Linked DNA regions of Homo sapiens. The protein of the gene in region 1 purifies or fractionates together with the protein of each later gene. This does not show direct contact. Each region holds a gene or a part of one and is shown on either strand. Other genes may lie near its edges.

Region 1 (7,032 bases):
CTAATTTTTTTTTCTTTTGTAGAGATGGGGTGTGGCTGTGTTGCCAAGGCTGGTCTCAAACTCCTGGGTTCAAGCAATCCACCTGCCTCAGCCTCCCAAAGTGCTGGGATTACAGATGTGAACCACCGTACCCAGGCTCTTCACACGTTTTCTGTTACATGCTGGGTAGATTCATATACATTATCTCATTTGCATCTCACGAGTCAAATATTTTTATTTTATAGATGAGAAAGTTGAAGCCCACAGAAGTTAAATGACTTGCCCAAGGCCCTATAGCTAGTTAGGCTCAGAGCTGAATCTAGCGCTGTAGTACACACCAAGATGCCACAGTTATCTGTGTGTCATCTGCCTCTCCCATCCTCTTTGGAGCAGTCTAGGTCCCAAATTAACTTTTCTGTGACTTAAATTGTTTCTGAGTTGAGATCATTTTGATGTATATTGAACGGGGAAGAATTTTTGTTTTTCTTTTTGAGACAGCATCTCACTCCATTACCAGGCTGGAGTGCAGTGGCGCGATCTTAGCTCGCTGCAACCTCCACCTCCCGGGTTCAAGCAATTCTCTGCCTCAGCTTCCCAAGTACCTGGGATTACAGGCACCCGCCACCACACCCAGCCAATTTTTGTATTTTTAGTAGAGACGGGGTTTCACCATCTTGGCCAGGTTGGTCTTGAACTCCTGACTTCGTGATCCACCCACCTTGGCCTCGGAAAGTGCTGGGATTACAGGTGTGGGCCACTGTGCCTGGCTAAGAATTAATTTCTAATATATCTTCTACCCCAGAAAGTCTTTGTGAAGTACCTTAGGATATTTCACTTTTTTTTTTTTTTTGAGATGGAGTCTTGCTCTGTCACGCAGACTGGAGTGCAGTGGCACGATCTTGGCCCACTACAACCTTTGCCTCCTGGGTTCAAGCAATTCTCTGCCCCAGCCTCCCAAGTAGCTGGACTACAGGTGCCCGCCACCACGCCTGGCTAATTTTTTCTTGTATTTTTTTGTAGAGACAGGGTTTCACCCTCTTGGCCAGGCTGGTCTCGAACTCCTGACCTCAGGTGATCTGCCAGCCTCGGCCTCCCAAAGTGCTAGGATTACAGGCATGAGCCACCGCACCTGGCCCACATTGTTATACAGTATTCTATTTGAACCATGTTAAAATATCATCATTTGTAAATCCACAGAGGAGCCTGGTGAATTCCTAACACATATTTTCTGTCTTGTTAAGCTGTTGAATTGCATCATGGTGGAGAAATGTGTAAATAGAAGTAATGATCTTGGTGTTTGTAAAAGGGGTATTTGAAAGGTTCCCGAAAGTGTGAGGGGGCTGATAGCAGATCTGCAGCTTCTCCCCCCGTGCACTAAAGCCAATCATAATTCTTTCTACCTGGTTTGTGTCATCCTCCATTAGGAGACCCCATCTTCAGAACCAATGGAGGAAGAGGAAGATGACGACTTGGAGCTGTTTGGTGGCTATGATAGTTTCCGGAGTTATAACAGCAGTGTGGGCAGTGAGAGCAGCTCCTATCTGGAGGAGTCAAGTGAAGCAGAAAATGAGGATCGGGAAGCAGGGGAACTGCCGACCTCCCCGCTGCATTTGCTCAGCCCTGGGACTCCTCGCTCCTTGGATGGCAGTGGTTCTGAGCCAGGTGCCTTCAGAGTGTCCCCTGAGGATGGAGAGGAGATAGAAGATTATAGAGGAAGAGGGGGGTGGATATAGGCTATATGGGCAGAGCCATCCAGATGTAAAAGGCTATTAACTCTGATTTCTAAGGGATCAGATGTGTAAGGACCTGTAAGGGAGACAGAAGCACCCCAAGTAGCCACTGTGTTAACTTCCTTTGCTGAAGTCTAATTTCTTTTTTTTTTTTTTTTTTTTTTTGAGACTTGAGTGTCGCCCTGTTGCTCAGGATGGAGTACAGTGGCATGATCTCGGCTCACTGCAACTTCCACCTCCTGAGTTCAAGTGATTCTCATGCCTCAGCCTTCCAAGTAGCTGGGACTACAGGCACCCACCACCACATCCAGCTAACTTTTGTATTTTTTTGTTTGTTTGTTTGTTTGAGACGGAGTCTCGCTCTGTTGCCTAGGCTGGAGTGCAGTGGCGCGATCTCGGCTCACTGCAAGCTCTGCCTCCCGGGTTCACACCATTCTCCTGCCTCAGCCTCCTGAGTAGCTGGGACTACAGGCGCCCGCCATGACGCCCGGCTAATTTTTTGTATTTTTAGGAGAGACAGGGTTTCACCACGTTAGCCAGGATGGTCTCGATCTCCTGACCTCGTGATCCACCCGCCTCGGCCTCCCAAAGTGCTGGGATTACAGGCGTGTGCCACCGCGCCAGCCTAACTTTTGTATTTTTAGTAGAGGCGGGGTTTCACCATGTCGGCCAGGCTGGTCTCAAACTCCTGAACTCAGGTGATCCACCCACCTCAGCTTCCCAAAGTGCTGGGATTACAGGAGTGAGCCACTGTGCCCGGCCCTAGTCTAATTTCAAATTGTGACTTCACTCATTCTTTCATATAACTAATGTGTATTCAGCACAGATTAGATGCCACTGAGTAGCATGGTGCTGCTTTTTTGTATAAGTATACCATGGATTTCCAACGTGGATGTTGAGAAGATAGGAAACCTAAAGTGTTTTGGTTACTTTCTGAGAAGGGACAAATAACTTGTGGTTTGGAAGTCAGGGTGGGAGTGGGAAGGTAATACACGATAAAGTGACCCTGGGTAGGAGGACTGGGTTGGGGGCGGGCAGATGAGAATCCCTATGGATCATCTGGAAGCCAGTTGACTTTGGAAATGTGATGCTTGGACAGCTGCTGAACCCCTGTGTCAGGGCCTCCCATGTGTGGGCTGCCTGTGAAGAGAGGCAGGCTGGATAGTCTGTGAGGACACTGCCATCCTTTAGATCCCAAACTTTTTTTGTTTTATTTTGAGGCAGGGTCTCACTCTGTCACCCTGGCTGCAGTGCAGTGGTGTGAAAATGGCTCACTGCAGCCTCGACCTCCTGGGCTCAGGCAATCCTTCCACCTCAGCCTCCTGAGTAGCTGAGACTACAGGTGCACGCCACCATGCCTGGCTAATTTTTGTATTTTTTTTTTGTAGAGACAGGGGTTTTGCCCTGTTACCCAGGCTGGTCTTGAACTCCCAAGCTCAAGTGATCCCCCACCTCAGCCTCCCAAAGTGCTAGGATTACAGGCATGAGCCACCGCACCCAGCCCCAAACTCGTTAGAAGAGTAATCTAATACTCTTTGCAGTTGAATCTTATTTCCTTTTTTTTTTTTTTTTTGAGACGGAGTCTTGCTCTGTCACCCAGGCTGGAATGCAGTGACATGATCTTGGCTCACTGCAAGTTCCGCCTCCCAGGTTCAAGCCATTCTCCTGCCTCAGCCTCCCCAGCAGCTGGGACTACAGGCGCCTGCCACCACACCCGGCTAATTTTTTTTGTATTTTAGTAGAGACGGGGTTTCACCATGTTAGCCAGGATGGTCTCGATCTCCTGACCTTGTGATCTGCCCTCCTCGGCCTCCAAAAATGCTGGGATTACAGGCGTGAGCCACCGCACCCGGCCTTTTTTTTTTTTTTTTTTTTTTTTTGAAACAGAGTCTCGCTGTGTCACCCAGGCCGGAACGCAGTGGCACGATCTTGGCTCACTGCAAGCTCCGCCTCCCGGGTTCACGCCATTCTCCTGCCTCAGCCTCCCAAGTAGCTGGGACTACAGGCGCCCTCCGCCATGCCCGGCTAATTTTTTGTATTTTTTAGTAGAGACGGGGTTTCACCGTGTTAGCCAGGATGGTCTCAATCTCCTGACTACGTGATCCGCCCGCCTCAGCCTCCCAAAGTGCTGGGATTGCAGGCGTGAGCCACCGCTCCCGGCCTTACTTCCTTTCTATTTATATTGTCTTCTTTTCATCCCTTGCCTTTTATCTTTCTCCCTTCTATCCTCTTCCAGCCCTTCTCTTAGAATCTTAGGATTTAGAACTAGAAGGAACCATTAGAGACCACTTAGACCAGGGGTTCTGCACATTAGAATCATCTAGGGGAGCTTTTAACAAACTACAGGTACCAGTATCCCGTCACAGACCAATTCATTAGAATTTTAGGTTCAGGCTTTTTTTTTTTTTTTTTTGAGACAGCGTTTCACTCTTGTTGCCCAGGCTGGAGTGCAGTGGTGCCATCTCAGCTCACTGCAACCTCCGCCTCCCAGGTTGAAGGGATTCTCCTGCCCCAGCCTCCGGAGTAGCTGGGATTATAGACGCCCACCACCGCGCCCGGCCATCTCAGGCATTTTTAAAAGCTCCCCAGGTGGGTCTAATAGTGAAGTCACGGGCCAGGCATGGTGGCTCACGCCTGTAATCCCAGCACTTTGGGAGGCCGAGGCGGGAGGATCACAAGGTCAGGAGTTCAAGACCAGCCTGCTCAACATGGCGAAACCCCGTCTCTACTAAAGATATAAAAAATTAGCCAGGCGTGGTGGCACATGCCTGTAGTCCCAGCTACTCAAGAGGCTGAGGCAGGAGAATCCCTTGAACCCGGGAGTCGAAGGTTGCAATGAGCCAAGATGGCGCCACTGCACTCCATCCTGGGCAACAAGAGCAAAACTCCATCTCAAAAAAAAAAAAAAGTGAAGTCACGATTAAAACACTGATCTAGCTGGGCGCATTGGCTCACGCCTGTAATCCCAACACTTTGGGAGGCCGACACGGCGGATCACAAGGTCAGGAGATTGAGACCATCCTGGCTAACATGGTGAAACCCCGTCTCTACTAAAAACACAAAAAAATTAGCTGGGTGTGGTGGCAGTGCCTGTAGTCCCAGCTACTCGGGAGGCTGATGCAGGAGAATGGCGTGAACCCGGGAGGCAGAGCTTGCAGTGAGCCAAGATTGCGCCAGTGTACTACTCCAGGCTGGGTGACAGAGCAAGGCTCCGTCTCAAAAATAAATAAATAAAACACTGATCTAGTTCAGTCCCTTTACTATATAGATGAGAAAATAGAGCCACAGAGGTTAAGTGACTTTGGCACTTTTTCTTCCTATAAATTTTTTCGCTTTTTTTTGAGACAGTGTCTTACTTTGTTGCCCAGGCTAGAGGTACAGTGGTGCAGTCATGGCTCACTGCAGCCTCAGCCTCCTGGGCTCAGGCAGTTTCCCCCCGCCAAATCACACCTGGCCTTTTTTTTTTTTTTTTGGGCAACAAGGTCTTGCTATGTTGCCCAGGATGGTCTCAAATTCTTGCCCTCAAGCAATCCTCCCTCCTTGGCCTCCCAAACTGCCGGGATTACAGACAGGAGCTACCATGCCTAGTTTCTTCTCACTTTCCTCTGACAAACTTTTCAACACTCACCTGTTCCCCCAGTCGTCCTCATGGATTTCCATTAGCCCCTCTGTTGACATCTGTAGCCAAGGGAGGCCAAGCAGCAGCACTTCATTCAGGTAGATTCAGGATATACACACCAGTACCTCCCATTCCTCCTCTTATTCCATTAGCCTTTGTGGGGGCAGGGGCTCACCTGGTTAATGCAGTGCCCCAGGTTTTGAAGGGCCCATCACTTTGTTTGCTTTGAGGTGGTCATATCGGGTGAGTCATGTGCTAAGTTCTCTTCCCAGCTGTCTGTGAGATGTGTGGTATCGTGGGTACAAGGGAAGCCTTCTTCTCCAAGACCAAGAGGTTCTGCAGCGTCTCCTGCTCCAGGAGCTACTCCTCCAACTCCAAGAAAGCCAGTATCTTGGCTAGGTTACAGGTGAGAGGCAATCACTTGGATCCTTCCCGGTGCCTTTGGTGCTGAGACAGGAACCACCAAGTGACTGAAGGCCAGGGCCAGGAAAGTTTGAAAAGGTCCTTGCTTGTGGCCAGCTGGTATTTATTATGTTCTCAAACTTCAGAGGACAGTAGAATCCATTTGTGGAGCTTTTTAAATTATAGGTTCCTGAAGCTACGCTCCATTACCTACCATCATCCCCCAGAGTCTGGTGTATTCAGTACATTTTAAACAAGAACTATGGGGGAGTCTGACACCCTTGGTCTTCACCCCACACTTTTATAAATCCTTTCAAAGGAAGTTGGGAAACAGGCCCAAGGTTCACCAGCCACGGTGGCTTCAGGAAGACCATGCCTCCTCGGACTCCATGTCACAGGCAGCTACCTAGAAAGTCTTGCCAATTTTCTAAATTACTGATATTTATAGAATCTTTAGAGATGGAAAGATTCTTGGATGTGGTGTTGAACCCACACATTTATTGATAAGTATACTGAGGTCCAAGGAGGTAGAATGACATACCTAGTGTGGCTCTGTAGGAGGAGAATGGCGGAATTGAGGCTGGAACCTCATCTCAGGGGCCTCATCTTACCTTGTTTCCCAGTAGCTGGGACCAGCATCTGCAACACTGCTTCCCAAATTTGCCTGCATGTTGGGATCACCTGGAAAGTTTAAAAATTATTGATGCTGGTCGGGCACGGTGGCTCACGCCTGTAATCCCAGCACTTTGGGAGACCGAGGCGGGCGGATCACGAGGTCAGGAGATCGAGACCATCCCAGCCAACATGATGAAACCCCGTCTCTACTAAAAATACAAAAATTAGCCAGGCGTGGTGTTGTACGCCTGTAGTCCCAGTTACTCGGGAGGCTGAGGCAGGAGAATCGCTTGAACTTGGGAGGTGGAGGTTGCAGTGAGCCGAGATCGTGCCACTGCACTCCAGCCTGGGGGGAAAATATTATGTAAAATATATTGATGCTTGGGTCCTACTCCGAAAGGTTCTGATTTAACTGGGATGGTGTGTAGCCTGGACAGAGATTGGAAGAGCTCCCAGGTGATCCTAATGTGCAGCGAAGTTTGAGCACCACCGATGTTTATTAGAAATTGCTGTGTCCCAGATCCTTCTGCTTACTGCTTCATACACTGTCGCCTTTGTGAGACAATTACCATTGTTTCCCCATTTTGTAGATTTTACTTAAGGCACCGAAAGATCCCTCTCTTCCGAGAGCTAAGAATAATATTGGTAATATTAATAGCTATGGTTTGGGAGTACTTGCTAAGGGCT
Region 2 (7,032 bases), on another chromosome or scaffold:
GGAGGTGGGGGTGTCGGCCCCCCGCCCGCGCCAGCCGCCCCGTCCGGGAGGGAGGTGGGGGGGGGTCAGCCCCCCTGCCCGGCCAGCCACCCCATCCGGGAGGTGAGGGGCGCCTCTGCCCGGCCGCCCCTACTGGGAAGTGAGGAGCCTCTCTGCCCGGCCAGCCGCCCCGTCCGGGAGGGAGGTGGGGGGGTCAGCCCCCCGCCTGGCCAGCCGCCCCGTCCGGGAGGGAGGTGGGGGGGGGGGGTCAGCCCCCCCGCCTGGCCAGCCGCCCCGTCCGGGAGGTGAGGGGTGCCTCTGCCCGGCCGCCCCTACTGGGAAGTGAGGAGCCCCTCTGCCCGGCCAGCCGCCCCGTCAGGGAGGGAGGTGGGGGTGTCAGCCCCCCGCCCGGCCAGCCGCCCCGTCCGGGAGGGAGGTGGGGGGGGGGTCAGCCCCCCTGCCCGGCCAGCCGCCCCGTCCGGGAGGTGAGGGGCGCCTCTGCCCGGCCGCCCCTACTGGGAAGTGAGGAGCCCCTCTGCCCGGCCAGCCGCCCCGTCCGGGAGGGAGGTTGGGGGGTCAGCCCCCCGCCCGGCCAGCCGCCCCGTCCGGGAGGTGAGGGGCGCCTCTGCCCGGCCACCCCTACTGGGAAGTGAGGAGCCCCTCTGCCCGGCCACCACCCCGTCTGGGAGGTGTGCCCAACAGCTCATTGAGAACGGGCCATGATGACAATGGCGGCTTTGTGGAATAGAAAGGCGGGAAAGGTGGGGAAAAGATTGAGAAATCGGATGGTTGCCGTGTCTGTGTAGAAAGAAGTAGACATGGGAGACTTTTCATTTTGTTCTGCACTAAGAAAAATTCCTCTGCCTTGGGATCCTGTTGATCTGTGACCTTACCCCCAACCCTGTGCTCTCTGAAACATGTGCTGTGTCCACTCAGGGTTAAATGGATTAAGGGCGGTGCAAGATGTGCTTTGTTAAACAGATGCTTGAAGGCAGCATGCTCGTTAAGAGTCATCACCAATCCCTAATCTCAAGTAATCAGGGACACAAACACTGCGGAAGGCCGCAGGGTCCTCTGCCTAGGAAAACCAGAGACCTTTGTTCACTTGTTTATCTGCTGACCTTCCCTCCACTATTGTCCCATGACCCTGCCAAATCCCCCTCTGTGAGAAACACCCAAGAATTATCAATAAAAAAATAAATTAAAAAAAAAAAAAAACATTTAAATATCTACAATACTTCAGGTATTTTATTAGCTTCTGGGAATACCAAAGTGAATAAGACGGTCTCTGCCCTGTAGGGCAGATAAGTGTCTAGACAATTATACTACAATATATTTATTCTCCAGGAATAATTACATATACATACAGCCATGCATCATTTAATGACGGATATGTTCTGAAAAATGCATCGTTAGGTGATTTCATTGTCAGAACATCATAGAATGTATTTATACAAACCTAGATGGTACAGCCTACTACATACCTAGGCTATATGGTAGAGCCTATTGCTCTGAAGCTACAGGTGTACAGGATGTTACTATACTGAATGTTGCAGGTAATTGTAACACCATGGTAAGTATTTGTATCTAAACATAGAAAAAGTAGAGTAAAAATATAGTATCATTTTATGGGACTGTATATGTGGTCCCCCACTCACCAAAAATGTCATTATGGAGTGCATGACTGACTCTACATACATAGAATCAATATGATACCAAGGGGTGGAGGGATGGTAATCCTAGAGGGCTTCTTTGAAAAGTACCATATGGTGGCTTACGCCTGCAATCACAGCATTTTGGGAGGCTGAGGCAGGCGGATCACGAGGTCAGGAGATGGAGACCATCCTGGCCAACATGGTGAAACCCTGTCTCTACTAAAAATAAAAAAATTAGCTAGGTATGGTGGCACACGTCTGTAATCCCAGCTACTCAGGAGGCTGAGGCAGGAGAATCGCTCAAATCTGGGAGGCGGAGATTGCAGTGAGCCAAGATCGCGCTACTGCACTCCAGCCTGGCGACAGAGCAAGACTCCTTCAAGAAAGAAAAGAAAGAGAAGAAAGAGAAGAAAGAGAAGAAAGAAAGAAAGAGAAAGAAAAAGTACCATATGATAAAAATAATTCAGTGCTGACACAGCACAGGATTGGGATAAGCAGCAGGAAATGAAGCTAGGAAGGTAGTTTAGGGATAGATTATTATTATGGCCTTGAACACTATCCTAAGGATCTCAGCCTTTATTCAGCAGCCACTAATAGGACTCAATTTTTTTTTTAAATATACAGGGACCAACATAATCACATAGGTTTCAAAAAAGATAATGAAGATCATGTTAGTAGCATTCCAAAGGAGAGACCAATTTGTCCAATAGTTCATGACAGAAGTGATATGGGCTTCTGAACTGTAACTACATAAAAGGAAAAAGGATAGATTTAAGAGACAATCCAGAGAAAGGACATGAAGGAGGACTACAAATTAGAATCAAAGCTGAGACAATGACAGTTTCTAGCTGAGGTTCCAGAAAGGAGTTTATGCCACATACAAAGTAAAGAATATACAGATGCCAAGTTTGGGGAGGCAGAAATGGGTTTCAGAGATATACACAGAAATCTATGAAAAAGGAGTCTTAGAGACATGAAGGAAGTAGAGTTTCAATTTAAAAAGGGCCAAGAACATCAAATACTTTGGAGGCGACATCAACAGATGAGTGAGATTGGGCCACTGAGTTAAACAACTAGGATATTAGTTATCAGGCCTCACACTATAAAGGAAATAAAAAGAATACCTGCTGAAGTAAAGCCATTGCATGTAGAAACCCAAGCCAATAAACTCTAGACCAGCAGTTCACAAACTTTTTGGTCTTAGGATCATTTACACTCTTAAAATTTAAGAGTTTTTGTTTTTTGTTTTTCTTAATGTGGGTCATCTATCAATGTTTACTATATTAGAAATAAAAACTGATAAAAATCTAAATATATTAGTTCATTTAAAAAATAAATACATCACATATTAAATGACATATTTTTATTTTAAAAACTTATTATTTTCCAAAACAAAGATATTTTGTATGAAGAGTGGCATCGTATATTTTTGCAAACCTCTAACATCTGGTTAGTAGAAGACACCTGGATTGTCACATCTATCTCAGCATTCAATTTGTTGCAATATGTTGTTTTGGTCCAAAAATATTAAGAAAATCTGGACTCTCACAGATATACAGTTGAAAAGAGGTAAGTAGTTGAATAGCATTTTCAGATAACTATAGGTGTTATTCTTTGATACTACATAAAAACACAGTTGTTTCTCAAAGGTTAGTTGCAATATGAAATCTGAAACCACATCAATGAAGTTTTCAGTGTTCCCTTAAAATCTGTTGGTATTTTGTACTTTGATGGATTACCCATTACAGTTTTGTAAAATCATACATCGGTAACTAGGAACCATTTGTTTGCTGAGTTATGCGTAGCTTCCAAATGCTGACACATTTCATGGTGAAATATCAGAAATTATATTCATTGATACCACCACTAATCTTCTCAGAAAAGTCTTTATACACAGAAACTCTAAAGCTCATTGTTGCTACAAATTTTCAAAAATTCTAATTTTCACTTGAATGATTATCACTGGCAACATATAGTATCAAGTGTTTTCCTTGAAGTGATATATTTTTTGAATATATTCATTTTCAAGAAAATATATGCTAAATATCCAAGTCTGAATAACTATGGTATTTCAGGTAGTCTTTCAAGTAAAAATGATGCTCTATGACAAAAAGACTAGCTCTGCTTGCAAGACAAACTACACATGTGCTTTCCCTTAACCACTGTACTTTGGTATACAGTAGAAGTGCTTTATGTGTAGTTCCCATTTGGTCAGACAGAATATTTTTAAAAATATGAGATGTAATAAAATTAGTAAATTTTTCTGCTTCAAGGATATTCTTAATTCAAACTGACATTATTCTTACTGCATGCATGTACATGGTGGTGAATATTACAATGAAGATAGCAATTTGGTGCCACTGCTTTGATTCATGCTAAGGTGCTGGCAGTTTTACCCATCACTGCCTCTGCACCATCACAGTGAAAAAGGCAAATAACATCTTCAAATTATTATAAAAACAGTGTGAACCTCATAGAAAGCTTCAACTAAAAAGATCTCAGGGACTCTCAGTGTCCCTCAGACTACACTTTGAAAACCACTCTGATATCCAGACTACACAAACACTAATAATCACTTGTAAAATTTACCCATATACAATTAACCAGTGTGAGTCCTCTTACAGGACAAAAAACAAACAAGTAAGAAATCTCCTAGAATAAGGAGTCTCTGAACAACTAAATGGTTGCTAGAAAGGCTCCTCAGATAGACAGGAGGCGGCTCAGGAACCATGCATTTCTTTAAAAAGGACTTATGTAGATGGTCCTCAATTTTTTTCTCCCATTCCTACACCAAAAGTCTAGAAGAATCAGTGCCAAACCTCAAATTTGAAGACATAAAGCAAGTATGACAAGAAAACAACGATGCTGAAAAGATTTCTACCAGATGATAGTTGGTTTAAGCTTCTTTCAGAATGTGGATTTTATAGCTTACTTTTAAAAGAAGCTGAAATAACTCACTCTTTTTACCTAACCATAATAATAATACTGTGTTCAGTTATAAACAACATATATTTTTAATGAAGAAGTTCCACCTCTTCAGCCTACACATAAAGGAAAGATCTACTAACACTAAACCTCACATATAGAGCTTGGTACAGTTAAAGCGGTTCTAATTTGCAAAACTGTAAAATTTTAAAGAAACAAAAAAATCCATTTTGCTCACCACTGTATGTCTAGTATCCAACTCAGCCCTTAAATAAGATGCTCAATAAACATTTGCTGAATGCTGAATATTGAAATGGTTGATATGAAATGAGATATGAACCCAGGTTACCAAAATCATACTAGTGTAACATCTAGCACTCTTTCTACTATGTGAAATCTTTTTTATAGCTCTCTAAAATAACACCTATGAGAAACCTAAAGGACTGTTATAATATCCTCTAACAAAATGTAACATTACCTGTTACATTTGAAAGCCTGGTATGAACCATTTAGACCACAGTTTGAAACCCAAACCAATAATTCTATCATTTTCATTTCTAAATATTTGCTATCTGAATTAAGCAATATTAAGTAACTGTCCACTACTAGATGAAGTACCAATAAGACACCAGTCTTAAATTAATCATCACACATTGATTATCACCCTCATACAGACTATCCTTAATATTTAATATTTCATTTTCTCTGATGACTCAGAATTTTGTTTTTTTGAGACAAGGTCTCACTCTGTTGCCCAGGCTGGAGTGCAGTGGTATGATCACAGCTCACTGCAACCTCGAACTCTGGGGCTCAAGGGATCCTCCCACTTCAGCCTCCTGAGTAGCTGGGACCACAGGCATGCACCACCACACCCAGCTAATTTTTTTAATTTTTAGTAGAGACGAGATCTCACTGTGTTGCCCAGGTTGGTCTCAAACTCCTGGCCTCAAGAAATCCTCCTGTCTCAGCCTCCCAAGGTGCTGGGCTTACAGGTGTGGGCCACTGGGCCAGCCAAGAATGATCCTTAATTTCCTAAAGTTTCTTGCATTTATATTTGGGACATTTCTTGCCTTATAAGAATCTTCAGATAGGCTGGGCACAGTGTCTCACTCCTGTAATCCCAGCACTTTGGGAAGCCGACGCAGACGGATCACCTGAGGTCAGGAGTTTGAGACCAGCCTGGCCAGCATAGTGAAACCCCATCTCTACTAAAAATACAAAAATTAGCCTGGTGTGGTGGCGGGCACCTGTAATCCCAGCTACCACAGAGGCTGAGGCATGAGAATTGCTTGAACCTGGGAGGTGGAGGTTGCAGTGAGCCGAGGTCACGCCACTGTACTCCAGCCTGGGCGACAGAGCAAGACTGTCTCAAATTCTGCCTCAAAAAAAAAAAGAGAAAAGAAAAGAAAAGAAAAGAAAAGAAAAGAAAAGAAAGAAAAGAAACTTCAGATATAAAGACTGTGCAGCATCTTGAAAATAATGTGTCACCGTGGCATTTTGTTTCCTTTTAAAAAATTTCCTGTCAGTTTGACATTTACTACTGTTTCTCTCACAAAAGCACAATGTAAAAAATTTTGGAGTGAGGGGCTGAAAAATGACCTGTTGGGTATAACGTTCACCATTTGGGTAATGGGTACACTGGAATCCCAATCCCACCACTCTGCAATATACCCAAGTAACAAACATGCACATGTACCCCAAAATCTAAAATAAAATTAAAACTTGAGGAACTGAAGCTACAACAAATCATTTTATTTTGAAATACATGCCATGAATGTAACTTCGTTCTCTAGAAAGACATGACCTACCATGGATATAGCCAAAGGAAATGGGCTTCTGTTGCATAAAGAATTTGAACTTAATATTATTTAAAGAAAAAAAATTATATTGCCAATAAAGACTTTAAAGGGGCCGAATGGTGGCTCATTCCTATAATCCCAGTTCTTTGGGAGGCCAAGGTAGGAGGATCACTTGAGCTCAAGAGTTTGAGACTAGCCTAGGCAACATAGAGATCCCCCATCTCTACAAAAAATAAGAAAATTAGCCACACATGGTGGTGTGCATCTGTAGTTTCAGCTACTTGGGAGGCTGAGGTGGGAGGATTCCTTGAACCTGGGAGTTCGAGGCTGCAGTGAGCCTGGATGATGCCACTGCAACCCAGCCTGGGCAACAGAATGAGATCTTATCTCAAAAAAGAAAAAAGAAAAAAAGAAGACTTCAAAGGTAGAACAAGGACTCAATCTTCTCTGCAGGTCTAAAAAGAAAAAAGTTTTTCAAATGTCTAGAATGGCTTAGACTTGGCCTAACATTTGGCAATGAGGCAGAATCAGTTCAAAGGTCAGTCTGACCCAAAGGATTCAAATCCCATCTGTGCGTCACACAAACAAATCATTAGCAAACTGCATCCTTCTGCTCTGCAGCTATCCAGTCTTGGCTTTAGTACTTGCCAACCTTACTCTGGAAATTACCCTGT
Region 3 (7,554 bases), on another chromosome or scaffold:
TAAGAGCATTTTCCAAAACTGATCTGTTTCTGTTTGTGCACACACACACACACACACTCAGACACACCTGTGTACTCAGCTGGTCATAGTCTCTCTCAATTGTCACCTTCTCCATGAAGTGTTGCCAACTGTGTGCACGGAGAAATCATTGTTCTGTGCTTCCATACCCCCCTTCCCAATCGTGAATATGAGCTTGTCCCACCAGGTCACATCCATTATAATTGCAGGTGCATCTGTCTCTCCAGTTTGACTCTGGGCAGTCTCTTATTAATCTGCGTAATATCAGCACCCAGAGTTGTGTCTGGCACTTAGTAGGAGCTCAGAAATGCTTGCGGAGGGAGGAATGCAGGGAAGGCAAGGGTTTCGAAACTGTGGTTTCGTCTTCTTATTAACAAACTATATTTTTATCCACGTATTTCTCAGTTAAAGGAACGTGCCCATCACAGAGGCTAAGATCACTTATCCACAGTGATGTGGTGCCCCATCATCTCAGCATTGGTGTCAGTGGATGCTAAGATCCTTCTGTGAATCCGTAAGAGGAGTGGGCAGGCAGCACAAAAATGCCCAAAGGCACTCAATTGCATGTGAGGCCACATTTCTCAAACAAAATTACTCTGTAGGCTCCTGGTGCTGGCTTCACCTTGGGCTGAGGACAAATGGGTGCTATGGGGAAAGGAGATGACGCCAGGAGAACACAGATCTTTCAACCTGAAATCATGGGACTCCACAGGACATCACCTGACATCATCTTAGCCAGAGCGAAGCAAGCCGCAGGGCAGGCACACTTCAGGAGAATCTCGGAGTCAATGGCCAAGGTACCAAGGGGTCTCTCATCACAAAAGCCAGAAAAGAATCCAGATCAAAGCAAGGGAACATGTCTAAGGAGTAGGCAAAATTGGTTGATTCGGGTAAATTCAACTTTTATAAATCTGGTGATATGATCCTCTAGAATTTGTCAGATCCAAGGGGTGATTTTGAAAGAACTGTGGTTTCAGACTATAAATGAATGCGACAGTCTTTAAGACAGAAATAATATTATAGCATGCTAATGTGGCAGGATCACAACTGACTTTCCTTCCAAGAGGGAGAACTTGGGATTTGACCGGGAATTTTAAAAAGGAGCAATAACGCAGTAGGAGAGAGACAAAAAATGTCTTTGTGTCTGGGGGTGGTGGGGGGACTTAGGAGTGTTGATCTGTGAGAGCAAAGGAGAGCCACACGGGACAGACCTGGAGGTTGGGAAAGCGCACAGATTTTCCTGTGTTTTATGATACACTCAAATACACAGAGCAAAGTTTTCTAGAGATGCCTTTATTGACATTTTACTAAAGATCAAGAAAATGCCATTTACGCATATCCAGGAATATTATTTTTTAACTTTCCCCATAAATTCCATGAGTCCCTGCCTCCTGCTTGTCCTCCCACTGAAGGCCTCTTGCCATAGTGATGGAAGAAGGCAGAAAATAGGAGATGGTTGGAGAAAAGACCAATGTCATCGAGGAGGGAAACAAAAGACAATCTGGATATGTAATCAGCAGATTTAGAATTAAAACAGGGTTAGAAAATTCTCTCTCTCTGAAAGAGAGGACAGTTTAATGGGGGTGTGGAATTGGTGGGGAGAGTTTGCACCATGCCTGGAGACTCTGGAGCAGACACACACACAGCTTTTGCGAGATGAAGACTTTTCCTGGGAAGGACACGTTCACTTCTAGTAAAACACAGCACAGGCCATTTCCATGTAATATTTGGGACGGTAGCTGAATCTGGTGCCCACATGCACAAAACAAGACAGTATCTGGCCCCAACCATAGGGCTGAACCCAGCCTCTGGCATGTGGTGCAAGTCAACACCTGAACGAGTGCATCATTCAAAGAACCCTATCTCCTAAACAGCCCAGGCTCCAGAGATACAGGGAGGCCAAAGGCTTAGATAAATTCCGAGGGTTATGGGCTTATTTAGGAAGTTTGCATTTCAGCAACCCAATCGAGAGACTGCAAGGCAAGGCAGTGGCTAAAAATATTTGGATCATCAACCAAAATTTTAGAGGGAATTCTGTTAACTTTTGTTAAGAGAAACGAGGGCTTTCTGTGGAACATGTGGCTATGGAGAGGAAAAAGGGAGTAACTTTTTGCCCTTTTCCTAAGCCACACAGAGCACCGTGAGCATTCATTGCCGCAGTGCCTCGTGCGCGTTCGGAGTATCTCAGTACAGTGATTTTTGTGCAGAAACTTCTTTGAATAATATTAGTTATCAGCCATATAAACATTGTTGAATTATCAGAATCCTGAATTTGTGGGGAAGACGTTTAAGACCCCAATTTTGGACCCTACGTGTGTATCCTCCTAACTGGAGCCCCCAGGTCTCAGGGAGAAGTCCCCAGAGGCTGGGAGGGTGTCACTGTTGCCATCAGGGCTCAAATACTGACATTTAGGAACACATAAAGAATCCCTGTGAAACAGAAGGAACGGACCTAGGAAGATAGGGCCATTTGAGGAACATCAGTGTTCTCTAAGTATCTATTTGTGTGAACCAGCTCGCAGAAAGTGAGCGTTTCTGGTAGTCTTCAAAGAAGAAACGGGTGCTAACTTGTAAGCAGTTTAAGCCAAGTGACCAGAGCTTTAGGGGGTGCGGCGTTGCCTGAGGGGCAGGAGTGGCCAAAATCAGCATAAAACGTGCAAAGTGGGCTGTCATGTAATAATACACCGCACAGGCAGAGAGGCCTTTGGTCAGCTCCTCAAGTCCTCTGTAGATGTTCCTTACCCTCGGCGCGCACCAGCCTCTGCCGCCTGCTGTGGCCCTGAACTTCGGACTCTTCTCTGGCCTAGCCCGCCCTTGGCTGGGGTGCTCGGGCCTGGCCCTAGCGGCGGGGCCCTCCAGGGTGGATTAAGTCTCCAAGACTCCGGGACCACCAGGCTCACCATGCAATGAAACTGTTTCTGGAGTTTTCCTGTCCCTGCTTTCCCTCCCGAGTCCCGGGCCAGGCTGCGTCCGGTGGGCACCGAGGACGCCCAGAATTGTTGGGAATCTGGGCGGAGGCCCGTCGTGGGCTTGGAGGCCACCGGGTCCAGCAGAGGCAGAGGCCTCTGTGCCACGCACGCACACACACCTGCTCTCCTCCGTGTGTCCACATACACACGTCTATGCACACACCTGCTCTCCATACATGCACAGCCCCACACACAGTCGGCCCTTTATGTGCACACACACTCGTGCACACAAGCGGCCCCCTCTCCTCCGTGCATACAGGCGCACACACAGCTGGCTCTCCTCTTTGAGCACACACACTCAAGCACACACCCGGCCCCGCTCTTCCAAGTGCACACACACTCCTGCACACACTAGTCCCTGCTCCCCCCCCCACACTCGCGCACACAGCCGGCACTCTCTGCTCCCTGCACACAAACACACATCCTGACATACCCGGCCCCCTACCTGCTGCCCCATGTGCACACACACTAGTGCACACACCAGTCCCCGCTCCCTCACATGCACACACACTAGTGCACACACCAGTCCCCGCTCCCTCACATGCACACACACTAGTGCACACACCAGTCCCCGCTCCCTCACATGCACACACACGAGTGCACACACCAGTCCCCGCTCCCTCACATGCACACACTAGTGCACACACCAGTCCCCGCTCCCTCACATGCACACACTAGTGCACACACCAGTCCCCGCTCCCTCACATGCACACACTAGTGCACACACCAGTCCCCGCTCCCTCACATGCACACACACGAGTGCACACACCAGTCCCCGCTCCCTCACATGCACACACACGAGTGCACACACCAGTCCCCGCTCCCTCACATGCACACACACGAGTGCACACACCAGTCCCCGCTCCCTCACATGCACACACACGAGTGCACACACCAGTCCCCGCTCCCTCACATGCACACACACGAGTGCACACACCAGTCCCCGCTCCCTCACATGCACACACACTAGTGCACACACCAGTCCCCGCTCCCTCACGTGCACATGCACTAGTGCACACACTAGTCCCTGCTCCCCCACGTGCACACACACTCTTGCACACAGCCGGCCCCGCTCCCCCACGTGCACACACCAGCTCCCGCTCCCCCACATGCACACACACTCGTGCACATAGCCGGCCCCGCTCCCCCATGTGCACACACACTCTTGCACACAGCCGGCCACCTCTCTCTCCGGACACACACAGTCAGAGGCGCGCACAAACACAGTCCCTTGGCCGCCGAGCGCACGCCGCGCGCGCGCACTGCCCGTCCCGGCGCAGGCCCCAGCTACATCTCCGCACGCGCACGCGCACACACGGACACGCGCGCACAGCCCCTCCCCGCTCTCCCAGGGCGCGCAGCACTGGCGGGAGGAGCGGGAGACCGAGGAGCAGCAGAAGAGGAGGAGGAGGGCGCCGAAGGCGCGAAAAGGCGCGCAGGCGCGCTGCGCGGAGCGGGCCCGCCGCCGCCCACGTCACCGCGCCGCGCGCACGTCACGCCGGCCCGACGCTCGGCCAGGGTGAGCCCCGCGTCCCGGCGCCACTCGGCCCAGGGCAGGGACCCCGCCACGGCCGGGACCGCCCGGCCCGGCCCCAGCCCGCGCCTCTCCGCGCCGCCCCGCGCTCCGCACCGCGCCCTCTCCGCGTCCCCGCCCGCGCGGCCGGACCGGGCAGCCAGGTGCGGGTGGGCAGGGGATGCCGCGGGAGCCGCGGGCGGGAGCCGGGGGTGCGGGCGGGACCCCCGGCCACCCCATCCCTTGCCCCGGCCGCGTGTAGGCGCCGCGCGGCCCCGACCCGCGCCCTCCCGCGCCCTGCGCGCTCCTGTGCCTCGGGGACCCCGCGCGCTCGGCGCTGGTAGGGGCTCCCCAGGTGACCGCGGGGCGGGGGTCCCGGGCCCGGCCCTCCCGGCCGACAGCAGCGTCCGCGCCCCACGCTGGAGGTGGGGCCGGGGCCGGGGCCGGGGCTGGGGCCAGGGTCGGCCGGAGCGCGCAGGGCGGGGGAGGGGAGGCCGCCCCACGGCGGCCCGCGGGGACCCGGTTCCGGCGCGCGCGGGAGGCGCCTCGTGCGGAGGCGGCCCGAGGCCTAGTGACAGGCGCGCGGCGCGGACCCCGGAAGCCCACCTGTCAGAGTTACCGGTCAGCCGGGCGGGCGCCGCCGGGGTCTGGGGTGGACGCCGCGAGCCTGCACGTTGCGCCGGGACCCCGGGGCTGTGCCCAGGTGGGTGGTGGGGCACCCCCCTGCAGCGGCGGGAGGGAGGCGCTGCGCCCTGGCTCCTGGGGCTCGGCCCCACCCTCGGCCGCTGGGCGGGCCGTCGGGGACCTGGGGGTAGTGGTGGTGACCCTGCGGGCCCGCGGGCCACTTTTCCGCAGGGGGCATTTCCGTCTGGCGAGGCGACTGAAAATCCTGAGTGTGGGAGTCGGTTTGGCCAGCTCCGCTCTCAGGATGGAGGGTGCCTTTGGGAAGGAAGGTCCGCGTTTCCTTTGAGATGTGTTATTTTTTAAACTTCGTTTTTCATTCTTACTTATTTCTTGTTTTTCCTTACTTTTTTTTTTTTTTTTACCAGAAAAATCATTTTTCTTCTCTGGGAAGGTGAACATTTGTAGCATTGATTTCCCGGATCTGGTAACATGGCAAAAGATGTAAGTATGTTTGCTTCATGCTGCACACGAATGTTTGCCTCGCACTAAATTCTTTGTAGTTCTCTGCCTTTATTTCAGAATGACAACACATAAGCTACAGTAGTGTTTATTTTCAGACTTTTAAAGCGTCTGAAGCGGGATGAAGGTGAAAGATGGAAGGATCTGATCTCTGAAGCTGCGGTCACCACCCACAAGTTGTGGCCTTGGATACCACACTGCAGTTGGGTGGTGATGGGGTGGTGCCTTCTGACTTTTTCCTTATCTTTACCGACTGTGTTAATTGATAATTTTAAATAAACGCCTTAATTAAATTGAGGTGGAGGGTGTTGCAGCACCGCAGCGAATCCTGCATTTCTTGGGGGGCTTCCACATGAGACGCTGGACGGGGGCCAGGCTCAGGGCTCAGGCTGTAGCCACCTGCTGGCACCTGTCTTCCTACAGAGGAAGTTAATTCCACTTGGGTGGACCAAGAGCTAAGGACTTGTTTTGGCCACTTTTTTTCTCAGAAGGATGAGATTTCCTGATTTATGAAATCTGGTAAAAAATGCTACTTAGCCTGCTTTGCAGTTGTCATGAAACTATAGAATATTTTGAAAATTTTTTAAAGCCAGAAATTTAGTCTATTTTATTGGTGTGCGGTTCTTTACCGTGCTTGGTTATGTCAGTCACTGAAACACCAGCTGGATTCTTTAGTGTTTCCCACCGTGCATCGTTTTGTAACTGAGTGAAAGGTGCTGTTGATGTGTTTACCTACTTACCGCACAGAGTTGGAAAGAGTCCGCACATGCTGCCTCTGCCTGAGATACATCTGTAGCGAAAATGCGTCCAGAGTGTGGAGCCCTCTCCGTTGGCGCAGAGGTTTCAGTGGTCCCTGCGAGGCCTTTTGGGGTGTCTGCCCTCCCTGACCTGCGACCAGGCATGTCACACGGCATCCCTGCCTTCAAGCACTGGGGTCCCCTTTAGAGAGGGTGTGTGAGCACCCAGGTGGACCCAGTGTGAGTTTTTGAAGTCATATCTGGCTGTGCTGCGAGACTACTTTTATCCTCTCCACTGTGCTTGTCCGTACCATGCCCTGACCTCGTGCGGGCATGCACTCAGAATGCCAGATGTGGGCATGTGCTCAGCGCGCAAGCCATGTTCATTACATCTCCTCATGGTGAGGAGCTGGACCCAGGGCCTCGGTTAGAGCACGCTTCTGGTGTTGTGTGGTTTCCTGTGTGGTTTCCTCAGATGGTTCTCAAACACGCTTTGATACATAATGGATGGTGTTTTCGGGGCCCTCTTTCATTCCCCCGTGATTTCACTGGCACTGTCTGTGAGCAGCATGTAGTGTGAGGCTGGGGGTGGGGGGCGTGTGGAAAGGTGGTCCGGCTCTGCAGGACCCTGAATGCTCCATCCAGTGTGGGCACCTGAGACGCAGCATTTGTCAGGAACTGCATAGGCACAGGGGCTGGGGGCTCACCTTGCACTCAGGGGTTGTGATCTGAGTTGGGGGTTGGCGCTGGGAGGAGAGTAGGATTCTGCAGCTGGTGAGGCCTTCCCTGCTCAAAGCCTGGGAGTGGTCAGGAGTGCTGGGTCTGGATGGAAAGTGAGGTTGTGAACAAGTCAAGGAATTTGATGTTTTCGCTAGCTCTTTTTTTTTTTTTTTTTTTTGAGACAGAGTCTCACTCTGTCTCCCAAGCTGGAGTGCAGTGACGCGATCTTGGCTCACTGCAACCTCTGTCTCCTGGGTTTAAGCAATCCTCTCGCCTCAGCCTCCCGAGAAGCTAGGATTACAGGCATGTGCCACCATGCCTGGCAAATTTTTTTGTATTTTTAGTAGAGATGGGGTTTCACCATGTTGCCCAGGCTGGGCTCGAGCTCCTGACCTCAACAATCCACCCGCCTTACAGGCGTGAGCCACCGCGCCCGGCCTAGCTAACTCTTTTA
Region 4 (7,000 bases), on another chromosome or scaffold:
GGGAGGCCAAGACAGGAGATTTGCTTGAGGCCAGGAGTTCAAGATCAGCCTGGGCAACTTAGCAAGACCCTTTCTCAAAAACAAACAAAAGAATAAAAGTCACACTCTTTAAAGTGGAAAAAAAGGTTAAAAATGGGGATAGGAAAACCCACAGTGTCATCTGTTGACTCACTCACCACCTGAAGAAAACCACCAGTCAGCATTTTTGTCTCTTTCATCCCATTTTTTTTCTAGGCACAGACTTGGGGATTTGTATCTGATGATTGTGATTGATATAAGTCCCAGGCTGTACCCTGTTTCTTTGTCACTGAATAGAATGGCATGATCGTTTACCATAGGATTTGATCATCTGTGTTAAGATTATTTTTAATAGCTGTTTAATATTGCACCAGAGGGCTATGCCTTTGTTTATCTAAACCTTCTTAGCTGTTTGGCTCTTTCCTTTTTTTTTTTTTGCTTTTTTCTTTCTTTTGCTTTTTTTAATTTTTTGTTTTGTTTTGTTTTGGGTTTTTTTTTTTTTTTTGCTGTTTTAAGTAACCCTGGGATGAATATGTTGTTTGAGATTGTTTTCTCACTGAGTCAGGGGGGATGGATGTTTTATGGCTCTTGATAAGTATTGCCGAATTGCTTTCCTAAAGGACTGGACCAGTTTGCAATGCCACCAGCCACGTATGACACTGCCGGTCTCACCATGCCCACAGCAACACTGGGTATTATATGCTTTTTATATATATATATAAATGTATATATACATATAATTAAGTTGGTTGGCAAAAAGAAGCTATGTCATGAATGTTTTACATTTCTTAGAGTGCTAGTGCAATTGAACATTTTATATTTGTCTGTTGAACATTTTATTTCTTTTTGTGACTTGTCCATGTCCTTTGTTCATTTTTCTTTTAGGTTGTTTCATCTTTTGTCTTATTGTTTTTAAGAGCTGGTTGGCTCTCTGCACATATGTGTATATGTATTTGTTTCAAGTTAATGTTAATTGAACATTTACTATGTACCAGGCACATTTGTATATCTCATTGAATACTCATGAAACATTGTGAGGCAAGTGCTATTATTATCCCCTTTTTACAGATCAGGAAATCAGGCTAAGCAGGGGGAAGTGATTTGTTCAAGGTCACAGAGCTTGCACTGTAGAGTCTGGATTTGAACCCAGCGCTCACAGCACGCCATGCTTTAACCTTTAACCCCTGTGCTTCCCATCCCAGCACTGGGGCAAGAGTTCCAACTGCCTTTCATCCCTTAAATACTTCCCAAGCTCTGGGCTTCCCCTGAGGTGCAGAGCTGAGTTAGATGATGTGAAGCAGAAAGCAGATAAGGAGCTGGATGTGGTGGCTCACGCCTGTAATCCCAGCACTTTGGTAGGCCAAGGTGGGCGGATCACCCTGAGGTCAGGAGTTTGAGACCAGCCTGGCCAACATGGTGAAACCCTGTCTCTACTAAAAATACAAAAATTAGCCAGGTGTGGTGGCGGGCGTCTGTAGTCCCAGCTAGTCGGGAGGCTGAGGCAGGAGAATCACTTGAACCCAGGAGGCAGAGGTTGCAGTGAGCCAAGATCGCACCACTGCACTCCAGACTGGGCAACAGAGCAAGACTCCCTCTCAAAAAAAAAAAAAAAAAAGCAGACAAGGAAAGTATGAAGTATGTAGCTCGTCCTAGAATAATTGGAAGCTGGGGCCTTTGGGGACACAGTCTGCAAAGGTCTCTTGGAGGAGAGATACCTATAGGGAGGTCTGAAGGGTGTCAGTGGGTAGAACAGCCCAGGCAGAGGGAACAGCATATTCAAAGGCCCTGAGGCAGGATGTCTGAAGGACGGCACAGGGACATGTGACTGGAATATAGTGGGGACATGTGGGGAGAATGGCAAGAAAGGAGGCTGGAAAGGTGGGAAGGGCCAGACCATGCAGTGAGGAATGGCCTTTGCTACCCAACAGCAGGGAGCTATGGAAGTGTTTGGGCAGAAGGGAGAGATGAACTCAGAATATGGTTTGCGAAAGATCGCTGTTTGCTGCCATCTTGTGCAAAAGCTGTGGCTGGAATTCAGGCAAAGGATCAAGTGGTTTTGGGAGGAGGCAGGGAGTGGGAGTGGGGATGGAGCGGGAAAGTCAGATTGGGAAGAGGCATAGGAGACAGAGTTGATAGTATGTGGGGATGGCTTGCATGGAATAGGGCAAAGAGAGGGAGGAATGAGGAATACCCCAGAATCCTGGCTGGGGCGGTAGGTGGATGGCAGTGTCCCTCGTAGCGACCCTGGGCAAGCTGCACCTCCACTCTGTCTCCGTTTTGTCATCGGTAGAGATAACACCCACCCTGAAACCTGCTGGGCCGAGGGACTGAGGCAGTGTGAGGAATGGGCTTAGCACAGTGCCTGACTCATAGTTGCTGCTGATAAAGGGTAGCTGGTAGGGGTGGGGGTGGGTGTCTTGTTATCCCAGGGACCAGCCCTCCTGCTGGTTCTCCCTATGGGCTGTGCTAAGTCTCTCACCTACTCTATGGCAGACTCTAAAGCATGCCTGAGGGTGAGCAGAGTTTTGGGGAATGCTAAAGGCAACACCCCCACCCCTAGCTGGGGCAGAAAAGAGCCCTAAAGCTTCCTTCACCATCAGTGCCCAAGATGGGGCTGAGCCTCAGCTCTCATCTCTTCCCTTTGGCTGCCCTTGGGTGGGAAGGTCCCTTTCAATTATCTGGGATGTTCCCATGATGCTCTGGGGCACTGATGCCTGACCCTACCTTCTGCCACCCGACCACATTGTGACCCCTCTTCTCCTGTCTTCTTGCCTGCAGGTAACCTCCGAGGCTATGGCATGGCATCCCCAGGCCTCGCAGCCCCCAGCCTCACACCCCCACAACTGGCCACTCCAAATTTGCAACAGTTCTTTCCCCAGGCCACTCGCCAGTCCTTGCTGGGACCTCCTCCTGTTGGGGTCCCCATGAACCCTTCCCAGTTCAACCTTTCAGGACGGAACCCCCAGAAACAGGCCCGGACCTCCTCCTCTACCACCCCCAATCGAAAGGTGAGTGGTAGGTGGGGATGGGAGTGGGCGGGAGGGGACCCTGGGTGTCAGCCCCAGTGCCACCTGCTCTGGCTCAGTCTGGGCCTTCGGACAGGTCACACTCCCTTTATGCCTCAGTTTCCTCATCTGTAAAATGAGGGGGGCGGGAATGGACTTGTTTAGCGTTTCCCAAACTTCAAATATTCTTTTATCAACGAAGGGATTTTTGCCATGCCCAAACACTACCAGTACTATCATTTACTTAATGTTTCTTTTTTGTTTGTTTTTTGAGATGAAGTTTCGCTCTTATTGCCCAGGCTGAAGTACAATGGCGCGATCTCAGCTCACTGCAACCTCCGTCTCCCAGGTTCAAGCGATTCTCCTGCCTCAGCCTCCAGAGTAGCTGGGATTACAGGCATGCGCCACCACGCCCAGCTAATTTTGTATTTTTAGTAAAGACGGGGTTTCTCCATGTTGGTCAGGCTGGTCTCAAACTCCTGACCTCAGGTGATCCGCCCGCCTCAGCCTCCCAAAGTGCTGGGATTACAGGCGTGAGCCACTGCGCCCAGCTTAATATTTCTTTTTAAATTATTGGTGTGGCCAAGCGTGGGGGCTCACACCTGTAATCCCAGTACTTTAGGAGGCCATGGTGGGTGGATCACCTGAGGTCAGAGGTTCGAAACCAGCCTGGCCAATATGGCAAAACCCCCTTCTCTACTAAAAATACAAAAAAGTAGCCGGGCATGGTGGTGCATGCCTGTAATCCTGGCTACTCAGGAGGCTGAGGCAGGAGAATCGCTTGAACCCAGGAGGCAGAGCTTGCAGTGAGCCAAGATTGCGCCATTGCACTCCAGCCTGGGGAACAAGAGCAAAACTCTGTCTCAAAAAATAAATAAATAAAAATAAAATTATCAGGGCATGATAGTGCATGCCTGTAATCCCAGGGACTTGGGAGGCTGAGGTGGGAGGATTGCTTGAGGCCAGGAGTTAGAGGCTGCAGTGAATTATGATCACACTACTGCACTCCAGCCTGGGTGACAAAGTGAGACCCTGTCTCAAAAAAAAAAAAAAAAAAAAATCAGCACTGCCCAGTAGAAATAAAATACAAGCCATATATGTAATTTAAAATTTTCTGGTAACCACATTATAAAGTAAAAAGAAATGGGCTAAATTAATATTACTAACTTATTTAACCCAATCCCATATGAAACTATTATCATTTCGACCTGTCATCAATATAAAAAATGAGGCATTTTACATTCCTTTTTTAAAAACTACAAAATCTTCACAATCTGGTGTGTATCTGATACTGACCTCTCAATTCAGCCCCGCCAGTTTCAGGTGCTCTCCTGAGGCTGTGGGGTGACTGTGTGGGAGAGCATGGCTTTGAATGAGTGAGCTTCCTTTCTGTTACATTTATTTGGAAAGGAAACATCATATCATAACCTGACATTCTAAAAACTATCTAAGTTAATTGCCATTCATAGAAGTATAAGAAATTGCTGGGTGCAGTGGCTCACGCCTGTAATCCCAACACTTTGGGAGGCTGAGGAGGGCAGATCATTTGAGGTCAGGAGTCCAAGACCAGCCTGGCCAACATGGTGAAACCCCGTCTCTACTAAAAATACAAAAATTAGCTGGGCCCTAGTGGCGGGTGCCTGTAATTCCAGCTACTCAGGAAGGCTGAAGTAGGAGAATCACTTGAACCTGGAAGACAGAGGCTGCAGTGAGCCAAGATCGTGCCATTGCACTCCAGCCTGGGCGACAGAGTGAGACTCCATTTCAAACAAACAAACAAACAAACAAACAAACAAACAAAAGTATAGGAAACATAACTAGGGTAGAACAATGCTATAAAATCCTAAGCTATACGCTGTTGCCGGCTATAGGTTCCAGCCCACAGCCCCCTGGCTCCTTGTGTGTTTGAGAGGTGTTTACCTTTCTCCTGGCATAAGCAGGAGATCTGCAAAGGGCTCACCCCCTCCCTAGACTGTCCTGTCCCTGAAGGTCTCCGCAGCTCCTGCTCACACCCTGCTTCTGGGTGTATTCCAGCGCAGGGGCAATGCCCCCTTTGCTGGCCACTCCAGGGCGGGCCACTTCTGGAGGTAAGGCATTTTCCTTCAGCGAGGGGCCCCGCCTCCAGCCTTCCAACGGGCCTGTCATCACAGATCTGGTCTAGTGTCTAACCCGCCCTGCCCTCATTTTTTTACGTATGGAAAAACCCAGGCTTAGAGATTGGGGTGCGGTTGGTCCTGCGCCCCACAGCTGTCTAGGTGGACCCAGAGCCCAGGCCTCCTGACTCTCAGGCTGGTGCCTGTTTCGTGCAGGGTGACAGCTAGGTAGTTTCTGAAGGGCAGAGTATGGATGTGTCCAGATTACCATTCCCTGCTCAGTGCTCATTCCTTGGGCTTAGCAGGAGGGAGGGAGGGAGGCTGCAGGCTTCTGGTGGCCTCCTGGGGTGCCTTGGACTGGCCAGAGAGAGCTGTGTGTTCATTTAGCAGACATCTGGAAGCCCCTGCAGGGGACTCCCTGGTGCAGATGATACATCTGGCCTGGCCCTCCCTGAGGTCTTGGACAGGAATGGGGAGGGTGGTGAGAGATATTAATGCAAATAATGCTCCAACCAATTAATTAAGACTGTGGAGGCCGGGTGCAATGACTCATGCCTGTAATCCCAGCACTATGGAAGGCCAAGGCAGGAGGATCAGTTGAGCCCAGGAGTTCGAGACTAGCCTAGGAAACACAGTGAGACCCTGGCTCTATGGAAGAAAAAAAAAAAGAATACAGAAATGCCACGAAAAGGAAGTAGGTTCTGGACCCATTCTGGAGTCTGGAGGGCTTCCTGCAAGAAGTGCTTCTGAGGCTCTAAGTGAAGGCCTAGGGGCAGGGACGGGCCTGGGGCTTGACCAGAGAGAAGGCCAAGGTAGATAAGCAGAGAGGGCTGGTTGCGGGGGCATGGCCGGGGCAGGTAGTGTGCAGAGGCCCGTTTGTGCAGGGAAGGGGTGGGTGTGCAGAGTGTTTTCAGGCTTGGCGTAAGGCGTGCACCAGGGCTGCAGGAAGCCATGGGAGGGCTTTAAGCCTGGAAGAAGAGACATGATCAGCTTTGCATTTTAGAAGGACCCCACTGGGCCAGGTGTGGTGGCTCACGCCTGTAATCCCAGCACTTTGGGAGGCCGAGGCGGGCAGATCATCTGAGGTCAGGAGTTTGAGACCTGTAGGGACCAGCCCCACAGGGTCGGTGCGTCTCTCCCTGTGTGCGGCGACGAGAGAGTGTAGAAATAAAGACACAAGACAGAGATAAGAGAAAAGGCAGCTGGGCCCGGGGGACCACTACCACCAATGCGCAGAGACTGGTAGTGGCCCCGAATGTCGGGCTGCGCTGTTATTTATTGGATACAAGGCAGAAGGGGCAGGGTAAAGAATGTGAGTCACCTCCAATGATAGGTAAGGTCACGTGGGTCACGTGTCCACTGGACAGGGGGCCCTTCCCTGCCTGGCAGCCGAGGCAGAGAGGGAGAGGAGACAAAGAGAAAGACAGCTTACGCCATTATTTCTGCATATCAGGGACTATTAGTATTTTCACTAATTGACTACTACTATCTGGAAGGCAGAGCCAGGTGTACAGGATGGAACATGAAGGCAGACTAGGAGCGTGACCACTGAAGCACAGCATCACAGGGAGACGGTTAGGCCTCCTGATAACTGCGGGCAAGCCTGACTGATGTCAGGCCCTCCACAAGAGGTGGAGGAGCAGAGTCTTCTCTAAACTCCCTCGGGGAAAGGGAGACCCCCCCCCCCCCCCCGCCTTTCCTGGTCTGCTAAGTAGCGGGTGTTGTTCCTTGACGCCTTTTGCTACTGCTGGACCATGATCCGCCTGGTAACGGGCGTCTTCCCAGACGCTGGCGTCACCGCTAGACCAAGGAGCCCTCTGGTGGCCCTGCCCAGGCATAACAGAAGGCTCACGCTCTTGTCTTCTGGTCACTTCTCACTATGTC

The links.
Region 2: the proteins of L3MBTL2 (region 1) and YAF2 purify together in Homo sapiens (affinity purification with mass spectrometry; 6 studies listed by BioGRID and IntAct, with this or other methods). This does not show direct contact.
Region 3: the proteins of L3MBTL2 (region 1) and TFDP1 purify together in Homo sapiens (affinity purification with mass spectrometry; 5 studies listed by BioGRID and IntAct, with this or other methods). This does not show direct contact.
Region 4: the proteins of L3MBTL2 (region 1) and CIZ1 purify together in Homo sapiens (co-immunoprecipitation; 3 studies listed by BioGRID and IntAct, with this or other methods). This does not show direct contact.

What each region holds. Positions count from the first base shown.
Region 1 is NC_000022.11:41,208,293-41,215,324, forward strand, and holds part of L3MBTL2 (lethal(3)malignant brain tumor-like protein 2), read left to right. Parts: intron 1-829; exon of another isoform or gene 830-1,403; coding exon 1,404-1,641; exon of another isoform or gene 1,642-1,659; intron 1,660-5,337; exon of another isoform or gene 5,338-5,600; coding exon 5,601-5,734; exon of another isoform or gene 5,735-6,411; intron 6,412-7,032. UniProt on the Homo sapiens protein: Putative Polycomb group (PcG) protein. PcG proteins maintain the transcriptionally repressive state of genes, probably via a modification of chromatin, rendering it heritably changed in its expressibility.
Region 2 is NC_000012.12:42,228,240-42,235,271, forward strand, and holds part of YAF2 (YY1-associated factor 2), read right to left. Parts: exon of another isoform or gene 2,983-7,032; intron 1-2,982. UniProt on the Homo sapiens protein: Binds to MYC and inhibits MYC-mediated transactivation. Also binds to MYCN and enhances MYCN-dependent transcriptional activation. Increases calpain 2-mediated proteolysis of YY1 in vitro.
Region 3 is NC_000013.11:113,580,225-113,587,778, forward strand, and holds the start of TFDP1 (transcription factor Dp-1), read left to right. Parts: upstream 1-4,528; 5' UTR 4,529-4,664; exon of another isoform or gene 4,665-5,453; intron 5,454-5,549; 5' UTR 5,550-5,613; coding exon 5,614-5,625; intron 5,626-7,554. UniProt on the Homo sapiens protein: Can stimulate E2F-dependent transcription.
Region 4 is NC_000009.12:128,181,573-128,188,572, reverse strand, and holds part of CIZ1 (cip1-interacting zinc finger protein), read left to right. Parts: intron 1-638; coding exon 639-710; intron 711-2,796; coding exon 2,797-3,026; intron 3,027-7,000. UniProt on the Homo sapiens protein: May regulate the subcellular localization of CIP/WAF1.